Linked DNA regions of Homo sapiens: region 2 is linked to region 1. The links come from fine-mapping of genetic effects on gene expression. A gene starts in region 1. The other region holds a variant in brackets. All regions are shown on one strand. Distances are between the middles of the regions.

Region 1 (2,868 bases):
GATGAGAGTGACCTCTAGCCGTCCTCATGGCTCATTATACACTAATTATAACGCATTAGCATGCTAAAAGTCACACCCACCAGCACGATGACAGCTTACAAATGCCATGGCAACGTCAGGAAGTTCCCCTATATGGTCTAAACGGGGGAGGAACCCTCAATTCTGAGAATTGCCTACCCTTTTCCTGGAAAACTCATGAATAATCCACCCGTTGTTTAGTATATAATCAAGAAATAACTATAAGTATAATCACAGTGAACAGCCCAAGCCGCTGCTCTACCTGGAGTAGCCATTCTTTTATTCCTTTATTTTTATTGCATTTTATTTTTGAGACGGAGTTTCGCTCTTGTTACCCAGACTGGAGTGCAATGGCGCAATCTCGGCTCACCGCAACCTCGGCTCACCGCAACCTCCGCCTCCTGGGTTCAAGCGATTCTCCTGCCTCAGCCTCTCCCGAGTAGCTGGGATTACAGGCGCCCGCCACCATGCCTGGCTAATTTTGTATTTTTAGTAGAGACGGAGTTTCTCCATGTTGGTCAGGCTGATCTCAAACTCCCGACCTCAGGTGATCTGCCCACCTCGGCCTCCCAAAGTGCTGGGATTACAGGCGTGAGCCACCGCGCCCGGTCCGAGACTGAGCTTTTTTAATTCTTCCAATCACCAAGTTATTGAAACCATTTTTGCAAAATTTTAACAATGAGAAAATTCTGACATCTCAAATCTGGCCAGGCACAGCGGCTCACGCCTGTAATCCCAACACTCTGGAAGGCCGAGGTAGGTGGATTGCCTGAGGTCAGGAGTTCGATACCAGCCTGGCAAACATGGTGAAACCCCATCTCTACTAAAAATAGAAAAATTAGCCGGCCGTGGTGGTGGGCACCTGTAATCCCAGCTACAAGGGAGGCTGAGGCAGGAGAATCGCTTGAACCCAGGAGGCGGAAGTTGCAGTTAGCTGAGATCGCGGCACTGCACTCCAGCCTGGGCAACAGAGTGAGACTCCATCTCAAAAAAAAAAAAGTAAAAATAAGCCCGGTGCCGCAGCTCACGCCTGTAATCCCAGCACTTTGGGAGGCCGAGGCAGGCGGATCATTTGAAGTCAGGAGTTCGAGACCAGCCTCGCCAACATGGCGAAACCCTGTCTCTACTAAAAATACAAAAAAATGAGCCGGGCGTGGTGGCACATGCCTGTAATCCCAGTTACTTGGGAGGGTGAGGCAAGAGAATCTCTTGAACCCAGGACGCAGAGGCTGGAGTGAGCTGAGATCACACCACTGCACTCCAGTCTGGGGTGACAGAGTGAGACCTCTCCAAATAAATAAATAAAAATAAATAAAACTAACAAGCAGCACGACTCCAAAATCAGAAAACTTGTAACGACCAAAAAAGTGCAAACGTGCCTTAAATCAGTCATGTGCGACAAGCAGCTATAGCTAGGGTTTGGCCGCAGGCTCAGAGAAGCGCATGAATGAGCTAAAGCCACAAAGCGCGGGGCTGGAGGTTTGGCTCCCAAGAAGCGAGGAAATGGGTTCGGAACTCTTCTGCCAAGTCCCAGTAGATCTACCCGGTAAACTTCCGGTGAGTTTCCAACTTCCGTGCGGGGCAGCAGCTTCGGCTGGTCCTAAGCGGACCGGAAGTTCGTCAAGTTTCACGCTCCGCCCCTCTTCCGGACGTGACGCAAGGGCGGGGTTGCCGGAAGAAGTGGCGAAGTTACTTTTGAGGGTATTTGAGTAGCGGCGGTGTGTCAGGGGCTAAAGAGGAGGACGAAGAAAAGCAGAGCAAGGGAACCCAGGTAGGTGCACCCGAGAGTGGGGAGACGCAGGAGGAGCCCCGAACCCGGGGCTTCTCGGCGCTCCCCGCGTACTCCGCTCTGCCCCCTTCTCTCCTTCCATTTCCTCCCCTCGGTAATTCGCGCCTCCCGCGGCTGTTTCCAGGGCAACAGGAGTAGTTCACTCCGCGAGAGGCCGTCCACGAGACCCCCGCGCGCAGCCATGAGCCCCGCCCCCCGCTGTTGCTTGGAGAGGGGCGGGACCTGGAGAGAGGTGCGAGGGCGGAGCATGAATGGAGGAGGCGGGGCGGGGCATGATGGGAGGTGATGGGGCGGGACCTGCAGCGCGGTGCGGGGGCGGGGCATGAAGGGAGGAGGCGGGGCTGGGGGCGGGGCATGATGGGAGGAGATGTGGCGGGGCCTGGAGCGAGGTTGTGGGGGTGCAGTAGGAAGGGAGGAGGCGGGGCGGGGGCGGGGCATGATGGGAGGGGATGGGGACCTGGAGCGAGGTTGTGGGGGTGAGGCTTGGAGGGAGGGATGCATATGGGGCGGGGCAAGGTGTTGGGAGGCCCATGATGGGGGCTTTAGGGGCTGAACCTGGAAGGTTGAGGGCGGAGCATAGTAGGAGGAGGTGGGGTCAGAATGAGAAATAGGGATGCTTGGGGCAGAAGTGAGGTAGAGTCTTAAGAAGAGGAGGTGGGGGGAAACTACATGGCATGGAGGCCGTGAAGGCAGAGCATGATTAAAGGAGAATGGGCCCTACCTAGAAAAAGCAGGTGGATTGGACCTGAGGGGGCGGGGCCTACAGCAGGGGCGGGGCTTAAGACCAAGCTGAAGGCTGGCGTGGAACAGAAGGGGGCAGGTCTTGTTAGAAGGATGGGGAGGGTTTGTAGGCTGGCAGGAACCAGGGTTGTGGCTGAGAGTAGGGTCTTTGGAGAGATGGAAAAAAAAGGGAAAGCCCTGTCAGGACCTGTAACTGACCTAACCTAACCCTTCTTAGCCCCACAAGGCTCTCAATCCCCTGTATTCTACAGGCTGCTCCGTGACCCCACCATGTCCTCTCCTACCACGAGTTCCCTGGATACCCCCCTGCCTGGTGAGTG
Region 2 (2,908 bases), 30 kb before region 1:
GCAGGAGAATCGCTTGAACCCAGGAGGTGGAGGTTGTGGTGAGCCAAGATCGTGCCATTGCACTCCAGCCTGGGCAACAAGAGTGAAACTCTGTCTCAAAAAAAATAAATAAATAAAAGGGAGCTCTGATCTTAGGAGATGTCAGAGTAGAGCCCTCGGGGTGAGAGCCCACTTTAGAGATCTGGAAAGCCAAGAAAGAAGAGTCAAGGATCCTGGGTGCCAGGTTTGGGAATCACTGAACCAGGAGCCCCAGACTTAAAGGGCAAAAAGCAGAGAATCCCTCCCAGGTTTGGGGGTGGCAAATGGGGTCACCATACCGGATCAGTGTGGCCCCAGCAGGCTCCACATTCAGCAGAGGCAGCAGCAGCAGCAAGGGTAGCAGCAGCAGTGGTGGAGACATTGCTGGGGAGCCGGGTGTGAACCCAGGCTTCCTAGTTTTCTTTCCCCTGTGACTCCACCCTGTTTATGCCCCACCTCCCGGTTTAGGAGGTGACCAGAACACGAGGTCTCTCAGCAGGTGACACAGGGGGACAAGGATGTTTTTGAAGATTTGTGCAGAGTATTTGTGTAGTGTCAACAAAAGTTGTATCCTGTGTCCTTAGTGCTCCTCATTCCCTACTTGGGGGGTGGTGGTCGTGGGGTGTCCTCTGCTGGGACTGCCTCCCACCCCCCATCCTTTAGCCTCTGTCACTTTTACTTCTCACTTTCACATCACTTTTCTGAGACTCATTAACCACAGTGTTTCCTTGGCCAAGTGGGAGGGACCAGCAGGTGTCTGTGAAGGGCCTGGGGAAGGGAGAGAGGAACTGATTATAAGCCTGCCCTCCCATATGAAGTGGGACTGCCTGCGTCTGAGGACCCAGACTCTTATTTGTAGGTGAAGTATGTTTCTTGTAAGCAACAAAACATTGGGTCTTCTTTTTCATCCATTCATCCGTTCTATATCTTTTTATTCGAGAGTTTAGTCCATTTACATTCAATGTTGTTCTTGATAAGGACGTCCTCCTGACATTTTGTTACTTGTTTTCTGGTTGTTTTGTAGTATTCTCTTCTTTCTGTCCTTCTTTCATGTTATTTATTTATTTATTTATTCATTTATTTTTGAGACAGAATCTCATTGTCGCCCAGGCTGGAGTGCCGTGGTGCAATCTCGGCTCACTGCAACCTCTGCCTCCTGGATTCAAGCGATTCTCGCCTCAGCCTCCCGAGTAGCTGGGACTACAGGCGCGTGCCACTGCACCTGGCTAATTTATGTATTTTTAATAGAGATTTGGTTTCATGATGTTGGCCATACTGATCTCAAACTCCTGACTTCAGGTGATCCACCCGCCTCAGCCTCCCAGAGTGCTGGGATTACACATGTGAGCCACCACACCTGGCCTCTGTTTTCCTTTTAGAGAAGATAATTTTCCTTGGTCATATGATTTAATTTTTTGCTTTTTTTTTTGTATCTGTTGTATGTTTTTTGATTTGAGGTTACCATGAGGCTTGCAAATATTGTCTTTTTTTTTTTTTTTTTTTGAGATGGAATCTCGCTCTGTTACCCAAGCTGGAGTGCAGTGGCTCGATCTCGGCTCACTGCAAGCTCTGCCTCCTGGGTTGACGCCATTCTCCTGCCTCAGCCTCCAGGGTAGCTGGGACTACAGGTGCCTGCCACCACACCTGGCT[A/ATTT]TTTTTTTTTTTTTTTTTTTGTATATTTAGTAGAGACGAGGTTTCACCGTGTTAGCCAGGATGGCCTCGATCTCCTGACCTCATGATCCGCCTGCCTTGGCCTCCCAAAGTGCTGGGGTTACAGGCGTAAGCCACTGTGCCCTGCCATAAATACTATCTTATAACCCATTATTTTAAGCTGACAACATAAACTTAACACTGTTTGCATAAACAAACCAACAAACCAACAAACAATAAGAAAATTAGTAAAAACTCTACACCTTCACTTTGTCCCCAACTTTTTAACTTTTTGTTGTTTGTATTTATATCTTATTGTACTGTCTATGTCTTGAAGCGTTGTTGTAGTTATTATTTTTGATTGGTTCATCCTTTAGTTTTTCTACTTAAGAGTTGTTCACACACCATAGTTATACTGTTACAATACACCATGTTTTTCTGTGTGCTTACTATTAGCAGTGAGTTTTGTACCTTCAGATGATTTTTTTTTTTTTTTTTGAGACGGAGTCTTGCTCTGTCACCCAGGCTGGAGTGCAGTGGTGCGATCTCAGCTCACTGCAAGCTCCACCTCCCGGGTTCATGCCATTTTCCTGCCTCAGCCTCCCGAGTAGCTGGGACTACAGGCACCCACCACCACATCCGGCTAATTTTTTTGTATTTTTAGTAGAGACGGGGTTTCACCGTGTTAGCCAGGATGGTCTCGATCTCCTGACCTCGTGATCCACATGTCTCTGCCTTCCAAAGTGCTGGGATTACACACGTGAGCCACCGCGTCTGGCCCAGATGATTTTTTATCACTCATTAACATGCTTTTCTTTCTGACTGAAGTACTCCCTTTAGCATTTCTTGTAGGACAGATCCGGTGTTGATGAAATTCCTCAGCTTTGTTTGTTCTGGGAGAGTCTTTATTTCTCCTTCATGCTTGAAGAATATTTTCACTGGATATGCTATTCTAGTGTAGCAGGACAAGCTGTGGAGAAAACCCCACAGACACCGAGATAGTGAAGGAAGTAGCTTTTAATCAGCTGGAAGCATCAGCAGACTAGCATCTTAAAATTCAAGCTTGTTGAGTGCACAATTTCTGTCGCTTTTAAGGGTTCACAACACTAAAGATTTTACATGAAAGGACCGTGATTGATTGAGCAATCTAGGGGGTATGTGACAGGGGCTGCATGCACCAGTAATCAGAGCAAAGCAGAACAGAACGAGAAGTTTCACAATGTCTTTCCATACAATGTCTGGA

Alleles and levels. Positions count from the first base shown, and alleles are read on the strand shown. Sizes are in standard deviations (SD) of each study's normalised expression.
For the expression in prefrontal cortex of the gene that starts at base 1,670 in region 1, A is the high allele of the variant in region 2 and ATTT is the other (moderate effect, 0.63 SD a copy in ROSMAP).

Evidence for each region.
Region 2: its variant is fine-mapped to the expression of NR1H2 in prefrontal cortex (ROSMAP, PIP 0.95).

The regions. Positions count from the first base shown.
Region 1 is chr19:50,374,788-50,377,655 of GRCh38, forward strand. NR1H2 (nuclear receptor subfamily 1 group H member 2) reads left to right here and starts at 1,670. Exons shown (of 10, transcript NM_007121.7): 1 at 1,670-1,789; 2 at 1,932-2,039; 3 at 2,800-2,861. The coding sequence starts at 2,819. RefSeq lists an enhancer at 1,579-2,390 and a silencer at 2,211-2,300.
Region 2 is chr19:50,344,356-50,347,263 of GRCh38, forward strand. The region is part of intron 2 of LOC105372437 (a long non-coding RNA gene); the gene reads left to right. It also overlaps the pseudogene NAPSB. Among named protein-coding and RNA genes, the nearest start is that of KCNC3, 16 kb to the left of the region's middle. RefSeq lists an enhancer at 284-333. The variant A/ATTT (reference allele first, on the strand shown) is at 1,669.